2 separate regions of the Homo sapiens genome follow, and region 2 is linked to region 1. Evidence: fine-mapped expression QTL. Tissue or cell type: whole blood. Region 1 holds a variant in brackets; the other region holds the start of a gene. All regions are shown on one strand. Distances are between the middles of the regions.

What was found. PIP is the estimated chance that this variant, and not a neighbour inherited with it, causes the effect.
Region 2: ME1 starts here. The variant in region 1 is fine-mapped to the expression of ME1 in whole blood (TOPMed, PIP above 0.99). The same link has a PIP of 0.9 or more in blood mononuclear cells.

The regions. Positions count from the first base shown.
Region 1 is chr6:83,455,289-83,463,476 of GRCh38, reverse strand. No RefSeq gene overlaps it. Among named protein-coding and RNA genes, the nearest start is that of ME1, 28 kb to the right of the region's middle. The variant AT/T (reference allele first, on the strand shown) is at 3,632.
Region 2 is chr6:83,426,270-83,434,457 of GRCh38, reverse strand. It overlaps ME1 (malic enzyme 1), which reads left to right and starts at 3,407. Exons shown (of 14, transcript NM_002395.6): 1 at 3,407-3,581. The coding sequence starts at 3,504. RefSeq lists enhancers at 1,992-3,191, 3,134-3,303, 3,924-4,193 and a silencer at 3,514-3,703.

The sequences.
Region 1 (8,188 bases):
TGTCTGTCTCCCACCATTAGAATGTGAGCCTCCTCAAGACAGACATCTGTTGGTCTTGTTTACTGCTGTGGCCCCAATGCCTAGAAAAGTTCCTAATTTATAGTAGGTACTTAATAAATATCTGTTCAATGATTTGGGTTTTTCCCTCAAGAAAAAAGCATGTTTCAAGGTAAGATATCTAAGAAGGGTACAGAGTCCACTTGCTTACTTATAATGAAAGATGCAAACCAAAGACAGAGATATCAGAAGGCTCATCATTAGCTTTTCTAAAACATTCTATTCTCACCCCACTAATATGAATTAAATTTCTGCCTCTTGGACATTGATGTTAATAGACATCTCAAGTTCATCTAGTCTGACCCACGCTTTTCACAAAATATTTAAAATATAGTGAAAACTTAACAGCTTTAAGAACACTAGTGTGATGGGAGGAAATTTATATTGATTCCTACAGTCGTTGACAAAGACTCTTCTTGACCAAACTTTGGTTAGGCTCCTCTAAGCCCTTTTCTTGACTAGGCCTCAATCCTGGCCTATAAGAGCAGCGACTGAAAGCACAAACTATTTCTCCCAACTCCTCCTGCCCTCCCAACTAAGAGACATGGGCAAACACTAGTATAGTTTCTGTAAGCTCGAGGCTGTGTTCCCAGGATGACAAACCCAGATCCCTTAAAATGCCTGCCTGAGAAAGCTCAACACTGCCAAAAGAATTTACTGTTCATTCCAGCCCAAAACCTGAGTATAGGCCCCTGATCTCTCTTTTCTTAGAGCATTTACTTTAGAAAACTTGCTATTGTAAATCTTTTCTCTCTTTGAGGTGTATCCTCTACATTCCAGGAATGTCTTTCTCAAGGACCTGGGAGCCATCCCTTTGAAGTGTAATCACCAAGAAAGATAAGGCCCTGTTGTGCAGTCTCCCTGGGAGTGTAGGTGCCTAACTTTGATAAGTTCCAATTGACAGACAAAGACAGACTAATAATCATTTTGAGCCAACCCCCACTAATGTCCTGTCCTTCAGTACTTTTTCTTTAGTACACCCAGATGTTTAAAAAGCCTCCCACCTTTTATTTCTGCAAAATTGGGTTTAGTTCTGTACTGAAGTATTTCTCTTCTATTGCAGTAGCTCAAACAAATTCTGTCTTGTCATTTTCAACAAATGTCCAGTGAATAATTTCTCTTTAACACCATGAGCTAGGTAGCTATTATATGTGGCATGTTTGGCTCTATCTTAGGGTGAATGAATTTTCATAGATTGTGTACTACATTTAGCCAGAATTTGAGATTCCTCAACATGATGATATTTTCCAGGAATGGTTCTTCACACTGTCTTCACTTTGATGGGAGATGAACTCAAGAAAGGTCCTAGGGATGGATCTCTGGCTAAAACAAACAAACAAAAATAATAGAGCTATATCCTGAAGCAATACCCAAACATCTACATCTCCAAGCCCCTCTTGATAATCTAAATTTAGGCCACCTGGAGTTTTGTTTTGTTTTTTTAATTGTCCCAATTGGATTTTGCAGTCTCAGTGACTGTAGGACCTCCAAGTGTCATGGATAGTTGGGTATAGAACCTGGGACTCAAGAGAGACATCTGGGCTTAAAGACACCTGGGCTTGGGGACACAGATTTGAAATAATTAACATTCAGGTGAAAACTGAGTTGGTAAAATTACCCAGCAAGAATGGGTTAACTATGAGAGGAAAAGAGGATCAAGGACAAATCCTCCTAGGAAATGCCAGTGTTTTCAGAAATGGTGGTGGACTGTGCTTCCCAACTGTTTACATGTCATAGCAGACATGGAAAATAGCATTTGTATGACACACTGGGTAAACTGTGAGACATCTAGGAGTATTTATATAAGGCTGCATGACATTTTTCTTTACTTTCTGTGTTAGTTTCCTAGGGCTACTACAACAAAGTACCACAAACTGGATGGCTTGAAACAACAAATATTTATCATCTTACGTTTATGGAGACTAAAAGTCCAAAATCAAGATGTCAGCAGAGCCATGTTCCTTCTGAAGCCTGTATGGCAATCCTTCCTTGCCTCTTCCTTGCTTCTGGTGATTTGCCATCAATCTTTGGTGTTCCTCGACTTGCAGCAATTCAGTATCTGCCTTCATCTTAACATGGTGTTCTCCTTGTGTGTCTCTCTGTCTTCACATGGCTATCTTCTTATAAGAACACATATTGGATTAGAGGTCCACTCCACATTAGTATGACTTCATCTTAACTAATTACATCTGTAATGACCCTGTATTAGGCTGTTTTTACATTGCTATATAGGAATACCTGAGGCTGGGTAATTTGTAAAGAAAAGAGGTTTATTTAGCTCACAGTTCTGCAAGCTATGTAAGAAGTGTGGCACGGGCATCTGCTTCTTGTGAGGACCTCAAGAAGTTCACAATGACTGGGGAAGGCAAAAGGGAGCAGGAAGTGTCACATGGCAAGAGAAGGAGTGAGGAGGGAGAGGTGCCACATTCTTTTAAACAACCAGATCCTGCATGTATAGAACAAGAACTCACTCATTATTTCGAGGATGGCACCAAGTCATTCATGAGGGATCTGTCCCCTTGAGACAAACACTTCCCACCAGGCCCCACCTCTAACACTGAGGATCATATTTCAACATGAGATTTGGATGGGACAAACATACAAACCATATCAGAACCTATTTTGAAATGAGGTCTTATTTTGAGGTACTGGGAGTTAGGATTTTAACCCATCTTTTTTGGGTAGGGACACAATTCTTAATACTTTCTTTATATTCTATAACTATAATAAGAAAAATTTTAAAAAGTAGTAGGGGTGCTAAATATTGAATTGATATAATATTTAACCTAACTTTTTAATATCAGATTTTATGTTTGAAATTGGTATACTTTCTTTCTAATTATATGTGATCATTACCATTGGTGGGAAATGTTCATATGAGTAGGTAGTTTAAAAAGTGAGAATATTTTTTATAACTACTTAACAATTTATGACAGTTGGAATTATATCTAAAGAATCTATCATCCCTTTTTTTCAGTGACAAATGTAATAGTAAATTTCTTGCAAAGATGATGATTTTGAATACAATCAAATTTTCTCTTGATGAACAAACACATTATTAGGATAGTCATACTATAGCTAGAAAGAACACTACTAAAATTGTAGTCAGCACAAATTTTATATATTTCTTTATTTCTAAACATTGTGCCATAAGAAATAAACACTAATATATTTGAAGACAGAATTTTATCCTGCTTGCAGCTCCAATAGGAAAGAACCCCTACCTGGCTTCCCCTGCACAGGCAGTTGTATCTTGAGCTGTGCACTCTCCTCTTTGGGCTACCAAAGTTGATGTCCAACTTGGCCTCTCCCAGATCTACTCAATAGAACAGTGAGTGCCATATGATGCTGGGACGGAGGGAGGCACACTTTCAGATCCACTTTTCTTGGATGACCATCACAGGAACACAAAATAAAAATGCTTCTAATGATAGCAATCAGCTATAAGGTTCTGTACTTCCAGGTCCCACATGGGTGAAACAATATCTCTTTGTTTCCTGTTTGTTGGGAAGCTCTGAGATAGAGGAAGTGGAGTCCTTAAAAGAGAAACAGATTAAGCAAGAGAAAAAAAAAA[AT/T]AAATGAGTGTAGTGTCCCAGAAACTAAGCAAGGGTGTGGTCCACAAAGTCAAGTGCTGATGATAGTCTGGGTAGATAAGGACTGAAAGGGTCCCACAAAGAGGTTACTGGAGACCTTGTTGAGAGTAGTTTTAGTCAAGTGGTAGGAGCCCAAGCACAAGTTTCCATGGGTTGGAACTGGAAATCAGAATGGCAGTGAGAAGTGGGGACAGTGGAGGCAAACAACTGTTCTGTAAGCTTGGATTGCTACTCCGTGTCTCTAAGTTTCCTAGTTTTTTGTTTTGTTTTCTTTTGGTAAAATAGGGCATATATGAACACCAACCTCATAGGATTTTTGGGAGGATTAAAAGAATTAACATGAAAGCTTTCTGAAAATTATAAATCACCAGAAATGTATAAATACAGCCAATTATTATCAGGGATTTTAATGAAAATTTGTGATTCTTCTTGTACCATCCCCTCTCCCCAAAGAACCATCTCTTTTAAGTCTGGTTAAAAAAAAAAAAAAAAGTAGTTAAACCAGGAAATAGAGCTAAACGGTGGCCAAAATTTTTGATCCTCTTTTGTGCTCAGATGATAATGGAAGTAAATCCCCCGGGATGCCACTAAGAAAGAGAAGAAAATCACCCTGAAGAGCTGTCTCTCTACAAACTGTTGGATTTACTCTCTGTGAAGAACGTATGTTTTATTAACAGTGATTTAACTTTGGGAAAATTCTGAGAAAAAGCTGAAAGACACTATGATTAATTCCTTGAATTTGCAGAGAATATAAATTCTAGGAAGACCTGAGAGTATAGATTTGGAATGTGTGTGGCCTTGGCTGGGCCTGAGAATCATAATGGAAATAGATTGCTATTATAGAAAGACCCATCAGTGAACCTAGCTGGGGTCTTCTGCTATATTCAGCTAGAGGAAGGCCATGTTCCAGAAGAAAGTATTCCTAGACCAAAAAACTTGGCTACCTTTTCCATAATGCATTCACAGCAGAACAGCTAAACCGGGTGATAAATATGTGTGATGCTGAAGTGGTGTCAGGTATAGCTTATGTAATTGCAACTCTACATCCTTAAATCCTGGAATTAGATTTATTTCTGTAATCAAATCATTTCACTTTGCCACATTATTACCTGTATATGATTACTTATGTAGATCATTCAGCTTAAGAAAACATTAAAACTATTTTCAGTATGAATTAAGACTTACACTTTTTTTTTGAGATGGGGTTTAACTCTGTTACCCAGGTTACATTTGATCTCCTAGGCTCAAGTGATCCTCCCACCTCATCCTCCCAAGTAGCTGTGACTACTGCACTCCAGCATGTGCCACTGCACTCGGCTTACACTATTTTGAATTACTATTTTCATTTTCTGAAAACTGGTGTTAAAGCAAAAATTGTACCAGGTGGCTGGGCATGGTGGCTCACGCCTGTAATCCCAGCACTTTGGGAGGCCGAGGCGGGCGGATCACGAGGTCAGGAGATCAAGACCATCCTGACTAACACGGTGAAACCCCGTGTCTACTAAAAATACAAAAAATTAGCCGGGCGTGCTGGCGGGCACCTGTAGTCCCAGCTACACGGGAGGCTGAGGTAGGAGAATGGCGTGAACCTGGGAGGCAGATCTTGCAGTGAGCCGAGATCTGTTGCCCAACCTGGGCAACAGAGCGAGACTCCGTCTCAAAAAACAAACAACAAAACAAAACAAAACAAACAAACAAACAAACAAAAAACAATTGTACCAGGCAAAGTAAAATAGGCCAGGATGACATTACTCTATTCAAGGCTATTGCAGTAGGGGAGAGAGGCCAGAACAAACTCTGAACTTGACTCCACTGAGGCAGAGGGGGTAGGGTTTTTTAAGGGCTCGGTTGAACTGGTGGACAGTACTGGAGGACATTAGGGGAAAGTCTTAGGCCATCTGTGTTTGCTAATTGGCTTTATCCAAAGTAAAAATAAACTTCTCATATGTTTATGTTAGAAGGTAGTTTTGCAACTTGGAGCAGATGCCCACTAAAGTTAGGCTCCTACTATCCCACAGGAACTAGGAGATAGGAGTACTATATCCTTTGATAACTATATTTCAAAGAAATTGCTCTCAGGTCCTTGAGACAAGATATTCCTGGGTTGTAAAAGTGGCAAGAACTGCTCACTAGTAAAACTACTCACTAGCCACATGTGGCTATTGAGCACTTGAAATGTGGCAAGTGAGACTGTGAAACTGAATTTTTCATTTTTATTGATTGAAATTTAAATAGCCACGTGACTGGTGCCTGCCACACTGGACAATGTAGGCTCAAATTACCTCATCATCATTTGATCTGCAGAAAAACTGCTGCTATTAAATGTAATGTCTATAATCTGGATCATTCTCCAAAGAGAAATTATCACTGGCGATTAGAGACGCTTGTACTCACTTTGGATGGTGGCAGTGAGAATTAAGTTAGATAATGTATATGAAAGTGCCTAGTAAAATGCCTAGTATAAAACAGGCACCAATGATTTTAGTTTAGTTTTCAGTCTCCTTCAGGGGACACAAAATGAATTGTGGAAGAGTGTTCAAAGTCAAGAACATGACAAATAATTGCTGGTATGGGTGTTGCAGGGGCAGAAGTGTTAATATTCCTCATGGTTACATGGTTACAAGATACTCTGGCTGTTTTGTAATCTACATGAAGTTATTTAATCTTGGAAATAAGCACCTTCTTTATGCTTACTCAAATAAAAATGCCAAATTGTAAAACCATAAACATTTGGGTTACTCTCAATACATTTAATAATAATCTATTATTGCATGATGTTATTGATGCATTCTTTTCCTTAGAGGAGTTAAAATAAAAACCTTTATAAAGACTAAGTCAGAACATCTTCTAAAGATTCTTGTGATGTAAAGGCATGATTTTATATATTACATGTGTTCAAAAGAAATTATATCTTCTTCTGACAGTGAATTATATATTTAAAAATGTGGGATATACAGAAGAGAAAAGGAAAAGTAACATATATAATGAAGGAAAGAACAATTTTGGCAAATGTGTTTCAGCAGAATATGAGGATGTTGGCATACTACAATTGGCCTTAGTCTGAAAATAAGCTACTGTAGCTCCAGCCATCAGAAATTCCACATTTTTTAGCTGTGGGTATACAGCTGTGGGCTGGTTTCTCCCAGACACTATATTCTCTCCTATGTCTGACTTGTCTTTTTCTCCACTGTTGGTCACCATCATCTATTTTCAGTTGTTTTCAAAAGTTTTAATTTTCTCCTGGGAATTGCATAGTGATAAGTTTCTCCAAGAGATGCTTAAATTTTTATAACATGATGAGGATGTTTATATGAAAGAATCATTTTGAATGAATTATACTTACTCTCTGATAAGGAGTTTGGGGTGCTGCATTCAACCAAAGGCAGAATAATGGAACTCCTGGTCCTGGATCCCACCATGCTGACACATAAGAATAAATAGATTTTAGTAGTTTATTTCATAATTGGCCTATAATAGGGAGGTATTACATACTGACTTTTTATTCTGAATCTTATGCCAAGGAGATAGGACCCATTACATAATAGCTAGAAAGGTTTTTTTGTTTTGTTTTGTTTCGTTGTTGTTGAAGCAAAATTAAGCAAATTGATTTAAAATTGTTGAGGTTTACACAATGAAGAAGTCATAAGATTATAATTTACTAACAAAGACCATTAAAGCAAATTCCAATAGTCCATTTAAGATACTTATTTTACAAAATTTCAACTCATACTTCTAAGGAACATGTCTATAGTGTAAAATAAGACAAAACTACATAACTGTGTTTCCTTTTGCCAACTATTGAATATATAACAAATAGTAAAGAAGAAAACTGACATTTGCCAGACAATTTCTGTATGCTGGATGAGCACCCAGAAAAGACCCTTTTCCTCCAGTTTTGTAAATACGTTTTTAGTTATCATCTACCTTGCCCTGAATTCACTTGACTTTTTCACTTTCAGTGATTTTATGATTCCTTTGGTTACCACAAGTCACTTTCATGTTGTAATGATTGATTAAACATGCTAATTTTTAATATTCTACAGATACAGTATGTTACTTTTACTCTTAATTTTTATGTGAATCTTAAAGCATATTAATTTCATATGAATAGCTGACAAACATCATAGACTTTTAAGACTATTATGTAGGAATATTCTTATTTATAAGCATTAAAGAGCTAAACCAGGCCAGACACGGTGGCTCGCACTTGTAATCTCAGCACTTTGGAAGGCAGAGGTGGGAGGACTATTTGAGCCTAGGAGATGGAGACTAGCCTGGGCAACATAGTGAGACCCTGGCTCTACGAAACAAAAACAAAAATTAGCCTGGCATGGTACACCTGTAGTACCAGCTACTTGTGAGGCTGGGATGGGAGGATAGCTTGAGCCCAGGAGGTTGAGGCTACAGTAAGCTGATATCACCACAGCACTCCAGCTTGGGTGACAAGAGTGAGGCATTGTCTGGGGGGAAAAAGCTAAACCAAAAATAATTAGCAAAATTGGGAAGTTGGAACATGCTTAAAATTTTGGAAATGCTCT
Region 2 (8,188 bases), 29 kb after region 1:
GGTGCATTCCTGTAACCCCAGCTACTAGGGAGGCTGAGGCAGGGGAATCACTTGAACCTAGGAGGCGGAGGTCGCAGTGAGCCAAGATTACGCCACTGCACTCCAGCCTGGGCAACAGCGTGAGACTCTGTTGGGGGGAAAATAATGGCAGCAATGTTGAGAGTATGTGCAAAATTTCTCCAGCAGTTTGCTGTCTTGAAGTACAATAGTTATGTGGACATCTGAATTTCAGAAGGTTTATTTAAATGCAGTTTTACTAATTTAGAATTTTATTCCATATGCCATGTTATCAACTGGGATGTGAACTTTTAACAAAATGGTTTGAGGAATGAAACAACTGGGTTGACTATCTGAGAAGAAGGAAAAGAATCAGTGCTTTGTAAAGAAAATCAGTATGTTGCATGCATTTACGGTTATAAATAGCTATATATGTGAAACTAATAAGGTAGTATAACTTGAGTTACTCTGCGATTCATGTAACAACATCTGTATGAACATTACAATAACACAGGTATGTATATTTGATCTTTATTTATTTAAAACATTTAATTAAGGGCCCAAATGCATTGGATTAGACTTGTGCTCTCTAATTCGATGGTCACTGGCATGTTACTAAGCATTTGAAATGTGGCCAGTGCAAATGAGATACTCAGTTTAAATTGTATTTGATTTTAATTTAAATATAAAACAGATACTCAATTTAGTCATTGGAAAACTTTAAGGTATATTTGCAACAAGTTAGGTATGAGAGTCTACTATTGCAAATGTAAGTTTTATAAAATTGAAATACAGATCAAATTTCTGATAAAAATTTGGTGTCTAAATTGAGATGTGTTATAAAATGCACACTAGATTTTGAAGACATAGTAGTAGTGTGCTTTTTGTGTGAAGAAATACAGAATCATTTAGTTAATATTATAAATCCTCACCTAGATATGTATTTTTTCTATTAATCTTTTTTATCTCATGAAAGTAAAATATTAGAATTGCTGTATGTACTAAGAGTTATTTCCTGAATTTTCTATACTTGCAATCTCAACTGACATTACATCAGAGTATCTATTACAATCATATTTTATGTTGTAAAAGCTCTTTGTGTGCTAAACTATAACTTGGGAAAGAAAAATCTGATTTTGACTGATGGCATTCTCACCTGTGTATAACAGAAATCTATGTTTTAGTCTCTTAATTTGTGAATGATACCCATTCTTAACATTACCAATTGCTTTCAGAGTGACAGTGCAACCACAGTTTGTTACAAGGCAAATTAAAGCAGTTTTTTTCTCTGCATCTGTTTTCCTACGTTTTTGGAAATAAAACCTAACCTTATGAGATTATTATTTAAAAAAGACTGAAAATTTTGATATTCTAGCTAACATTTATGTAGAAAAATAGGTTCTTTCTAGTATTCTTGGAACTACATATGAATGTACTAAATGGCTTCTTCAGCTAGGCCTTATCCTGTTTCATTCAAGATGACGGCGGTTATTTTAATAATTAAAATAAACATACAGATGAAAGATGTGAACTTTACCTACTACTGGCAGGATATTGTAATCCCCTTGTAATGTTGCCTTTGAGGGAGAGGCCATATACTCTTTGTGGGTTACTCCCTGTACTTATAACACTTTTCCTATCTGTAGATATTAAATCTCAGAAACAGGAACAGGTAGGTAGTATATCTAAATTCATGTAATAAGTACTTTATTATAATAAGGGTCTGTTGTACTAACATTTTTGTTTCTTCTTAAGCAGCTTGAATTGGCTCCCATGCCAGCTGTTAAACTGTTTCCTCTCACATAAAACACCCTAACTGTAATGTGTCTCAGTTAATTCAGGAGAGTGAGTTGTGTAAAGTACACCTTTTTCTTAGATGTTGTAGGATTGAGTATTTATGGAGTATAGAATTAACAATGAAAGGTGTCATTTAACTTCAAGGATTTTTTTCAAAAAGAACTTTGTGATGCCTAGAAAATATTCTCTATAAAAACAACGAATTCTAGATAATTCAGGCGAGGTCAAAGAAGCTTCTAAATGTAAATACGGACAAAATACAATTACTGTAAGAAATCTTTCTGATAAGGCAAAGTTAACATAACTAGAAATGAAAACACTGTGATTGGATGTGTGTCTAGTATATGGAGATATAAAATCAGCAAATAATCTCAAACACTATCCTTTGTAATATCAGTATGCAGAGACAAATGGGACAGAAACTAGCAATCCTATTTAACTGAAAAGGAAACTGGGGCACAGAAGGCTTTAGTGTCTGTTGCTATTAATTTATTTTTATCAGACAGGCACTCCTTTTGGCTATGATCTGACTATTCCTCCAGTCCATGAACCTCCAAGCATAAATATCAATAAAACAATAAAAAAATGGCCCGGCGCGGTGGCTCACACCTATAATCCCAGCACTTTGGAAGGCGGAGGCGGGCGGATCACCTGAGGTTGGGAGGAAGGCCTGAAAGACTGCTTACTCATCATTATTCAGAGAGAGCAGTGGTTCTTGAACATCAGGTTTCTAGAACTCCCAGAGAAATAATATACAAGATAAACAGGACTGTTCATTGGGCCTTTGCACCCTAACACCTTGACTCTTATCTTATTGACATTCAAATACAATTCCGGTGGAAAATCTGTAGAAACTGACAGGTGTGGCGCCTGAGCTCTCCTCTCTGGGCTTCCTCCCAGTTCCCTTGGGCCTCGGCATTCTGGGTCAAGGTTGGTTCCCTCCGGCCTCAGGGCCCCGGGCATGGCCGGCATCCTGGATGGCACGGCGAAGGTTGTGGATCTGTAGAAAGAGGGCTTCCAAGACGCTAACAAGACAGGAGAGACGAGTCTGATTCTCCTCAGCCTGTCGAGGTGTTCTGTCAACAGTTCTGGGGACCCCTCACGAGTCCTTCCGTCCTGTAATCCCCCTAGGTGTCTGAGCGACCGCCGGCTCTGCCTGAACCGCTCAGGTTCGCACCTTCTGGCATCTTCTCGCACTTTCTCCAGCCTTCCCGGGCAGGGGGATCCTGGCCTGACGCTCCCCGCTCCCTGCCCCCGCCCTGGGTCTCTGGGGTCAGCAGAGCCACCCAGTGCACTGCGTTTAGGCATGCCCACATGGAGAGAGGCGACCACAGCGGTGATCATAAGCCCATGGTGGGCAGAGGCCCTATGGAGCCAAGGGCTCCGGCCGCCACCCCCGCTCCGCCACCAGCAGCGCTGCCAGGACTCGCTCTTCCTCCTCCTCCTCACACGCCGGCTCGGATGATCTCCTGCCATGACTCAGCGCTTCTCGCAGGCTGCCCTGCTGGGGACACCGGCTTCGCTCGGGCCCCTCCCGACGCGTCCACCCCCTCTCGCCACCCACGCCCGCCCCCAGCCGCTGGGCCTTTCCCAGTGCGGCCGCCGCCGCCACAGCTGCAGTCAGCACCGTCACCCCAGCAGCATCCGCCGCCTGCACCGCGCGTGCGGCCCGCCCCGGCCTGACCCCGCCGCCGAACCCGGCGCCAGCCATGGAGCCCGAAGCCCCCCGTCGCCGCCACACCCATCAGCGCGGCTACCTGCTGACACGGAACCCTCACCTCAACAAGGTAAACCCGCAGGCCCACCTGGCCGCCCATCGGCCCCTCTCTATCAGGGTCAGGGCCCTCTTGCAGGTCCCCGCACCATGGCCTCGCCCCTCCGCCGCTCCCCTGGGAAGGTTCCCGGTGAGCGGCCGCGGCCTGGGGGGCCTTGGTGTGGGCAGAAGGAAGAAGGACGCCTAATCGGGTCCGTATCCACTAGAGTGATGGCAGGGCAGTGCTGGTGCCTCTGCACCTCGGCATCCCATGTTAGGGATAGAGGTAAAGGTAAAGGTTAGTGATAGAGGAAAAGGTGATACTTTTCGGCAGCTCTTCTCCAAAAACAAGAGCCCAGACAATGAAAGTAGTATCAGACAAAGTGTGTGAATGGAGTGCCAGGTCAGACTCCATGTGCCACTCACTTACTGGTTGCACACACAGTGTGGCAATTATTGGAAGTTGATAAGGCGAGAAGTGGCTCAACTGGTCCTGCCCAGACAGAAACGTGTACTGAGTGCCTTCAGATCACGTTAGCAATCTGGAAATCCAAGTCCTCTCGGTTTCTGGAGTGACACGGTTAAGAGTCTGGGAATGCGTGGTGGGTGGCCTCTGTCTTGGACACTTTGCATGGCTTGGTAGAAGAACTCTGTCCCAGACATGGGACTGTGGGTAAAGCCATTTCTTTTCTTTCTTTCTTTTGTTTTGTTTTGTTTTGTTTTGTTTTTAATTTGGCTTTCTGGAAGTTAAAAAAAAATTTTGTTTAGAGCTGCTCTCTTTTTATTAAAGGGGAATTCAGTGTACACCCTGTTCAGAGACTCCTTTTCGGATCCTGGTAACATTTCATTTTCCTTCACTGGTGATGCAATATAAGCACTCGGGATGTCTCTCAAATAAAAAATACCTCCGAATTTATCATTTTGCTTCCACACTTATTTTACAGCCAGGTTTGTCTCGGGATTGTTCCTTTTGTGTGTGTGTGTGCGTGCGCTTTGGACATTTCCTATTTATTCAGGAGTCTGAAAATGCCATCAGTCAGCACAGAGGTTTGTTTAGTTATTTTGGTTGTCTCTTTGGTGGACTGCATTTCACATTAAGAACAGAAGCTCAGCTTTTTCCTTGTCGTGTTCCTGATGATTTGTTGATCATATTAATGACTTAAAGACATGATTTATTTAACAAGTTATAGTCAGTGTGAGTGATTTTTTTTGTGTGTGTGGTGACAGGCACCTTTTACAAATCTATGACTGTGTGCTATCTGCCGTCATGTAGCATTATTAAATTGTAAATAATTCCAACTTATTTCTTTCTTTAAAATAAATTTAATTGCTAGTTTGATTGTTTTTTCTTTTCTTTTATTATTCTGCAGGTTTGCCACCTATTTTCAGTAGAACAAAAGTAAAATTTGATGTGACAAAACTATTTGTGACTTGTATGTGTCACCTGCCTACTGTAATTTATGACCAAGTTGTGGGTTGACACTTAAGAAGGACCACATGAGTTGTATAACCTGTTTGATTTTCCTCAAGTTGGGGGCAAGAGTGTCTATTAAGAGTATGTAGATGGCATGAGCAATCCCTGAGCAAGAGTAATTATTGCCTTTACTATGCTTACATCAAGAATTTATTATTATTATTATTATTATTTGAGACGGAGTCGCGCTCTGTCGCCCAGGTTGGAGTGCAGTGGCGCGATCTCCGCTCACTGCAAGCTCCACCTCCTGGGTTCACGCCATTCTCCTGCCTCAGCCTCCCGAGTAGCTGAGACTACAAGCGCCCGCCACCATGCCCGGCAAATTTTTTGTACTTTTAGTACAGACTGGGTTTCACCGTGTTAGTCAGGATTGTCTCGATCTCCTGGCTTCGTGATCCACCCGCCTCAGCCTCCCAAAGTGCTGGGATTACAGGCATGAGCCACCGCGCCCAGCCAAGAATTTATGATATAACAATCCTTGTGACTCCTGTTCACAAGGTTACTAGGAATTAAGGATTAATTCCTACTTCAGAATAATAGTATCACAAAGATCTTCTATCAAAGATAAGATGTAACATTAATATGTTAAAAGCACATTTTCAAATTTGTAATACTTGAACTTTTTATCTGCATTATGTCAAATTGGATCCACAATCCAGTGTACCAACTTGGAGGCAATCGATGGAATAATCTTTTACTCAGTTCTAGGATGGTTATCTGGTACCTTATGGGAGTAACAGAGTTTCCTATGTACCATTGAAACTACAGCTATGGGACTTTCTTCATCTGTCATACATTCAAGACCTCTAGGCCTTTAATTTTGCTAGTAGCTCAGGAATGTTTTGGCTTATTTTTATTCTTATTATTTTGTAATAACCTTGGCTCCAAAGAGACAAGAGTAGATTTTACTTCCCTCAACAACCCAGCCTGTCACATGTCTTCTTCAACCACACTAACACAGAACTTCATCATTTACCTTTGGGTAGCTGCAACAACAGTTTTGCTGGTTTTATTTCCATTGATATAGTTCATTCTACATATATATATGAAAGAGACACCTTCATTAATTAACATTTTCTTCACTTTTCTATTATCCAAGCATTTATAGTATGTTATTATTTCCTATTATGTTTAATGTAAAATCAGTCTGTCAATTGGGTTTACAGTCTTCTCCAAATTTATCTTATTCGTTCCCCAATGTAGGCTTCCACTTAAAATATATTTGCTGAATCTCTTAATTCTTTCCTTTTTGTGTGTAATTTCTACTATGAAAATGTCTTAGTTGATTTAATAATGATCTTTCTAGGGAAGCATTTCTTAGTTATGTTAGTCTTATTATTTAACACCTCTGTTTTTATGTATTCAGTTGTACTATATAATTTTGTATTTACTAACTTGTCTTTTTATTTTCCTTTTTTTTTTTTTGAGACAGAGCCTTGTTCTGTTGCCCAGGCTGGAGTGCAGTGGTGTGATCTAGGTTCACTGCAAACTCTACCTCCTGGGTTCAAGTGACTCTTGTGCCTCAGCCTCCTGAGTAGCTGAGATTACAGGCATGTGCCACTATGCCCAGCTAATTTCTATATTTTAATAGAGACAGGGTTTGGTCATGTTGGCCACGCTGGTCTCAAACTCCTGACCTTAAGTGATCTGCCCGCCTCGGCCTCCCAAAAGTGTTGGGATTACAGGCGTGAGCTACTGCACCCGGCCATAAGTTGTATTTTTTTTTCTTATTTCTTTGATTGTCATAGGGCAGGAGTCACAATATTTAGTACAGTATTTTGCTCAGTAGACATTAAATAAATGTTTACTTAATGAATGAGCCATGTCTTTATTTTTGTCTTTAAACAGAACTCAGCTTTTAAAGTGATAGTTTAGGCATTGTCCTCTTTAAAGTAATTTTGTGAAAATAAATTCACATTGAAGTCTAAAGTTTAGTTCACTTCCTATGCCATTATATAGTATGCTGAAATGTAGTCAGAAAAGTTGAAATGTGGTTTAAGCTTGATAATCTCATGAAATTTTAATTACTTGCTGGATAACCTAAGGGAGGTGCTTCATCTTGGTAAAATCAAAGTTAACAGTAGATATGGTATGAATTCAAAAATTTTCAAAAAACTTAAGAGAATTAGGATCTTCATTTGTTATGATTCATGTATGAGTCTAAGCCTTACTATTTGTTTGTATTAAAATATGCATCATTCAAGGTAGGATTTCATCAAAACAATTGGGGAAGTAAATCTGCCTCATGTTTATGAGATTTAATATTTTTCTGTGCATAGCCCTAACTATTTTTGAGATGCTTATCTTTGCCGGTTTTATATAAATGTGTCTAATTTAATGTTTAATGTTTTTTATTTTCAGGGATATGGTCTAATATAGATGAGTTGTGTTTTAAATTTTTTTCTCAATAATTTTCATGTGACTAATAATATTTCATAAATTGCCCTTCAAAATTAAAATTCTACACATAATAAAATAATCATGCCTATTTTTTATTCTCAATTAGTTTATTTCCCTTTGCAATGGTAGAAAACACTAATTGATAGTTCTATCATAATTGTGCTTACATGGTTTCTATATCTTAAGAGTAAATAATAACATGACCCATAAGTAAATCTCCAAACAACACCACTCTTCCATATTTTAGGCAGTTTGGTTCAGTATAAGTCATGTTTAAGAGTTACGTTCCAGTAGAAGATAGTGTTTTATCGAAGTTAATTTGGGTCATCATTACTAACTTTTACATCTAAAAAATCAGCTTTTGTAGCTGTTTGTTTCCTGGCATGACAAGACCTAGTTGGGTGTGTTGTAAGAAAGAGAGAGAAATAAGATTCATGGCAATGAAGGAAAAGTACCCTAAACCTCTTTTTCTTCAATGTAAACTAGACCTGAATGAATTATTCAGAAAATTTCATCCAACCACATTCTCTAGAGTTGCCTCTGCAACGTGAGAAACTGATTTATTATTTAACATAGAATCCCACTTATGTGAAAGTCATATACAGCCAGGTACCTCTGTATATGTTTGTTACCTTGCTGCAGTGGAAACAACAGTAGTAGTATAGAATATCACAATAACAAAATGTGTGCTGTAATAAGAAAGGTGAGTTTGATATGGTAACTCTTGAGACAGGTGATATGGAGTATAAAAAATATTGAAGAAAGGA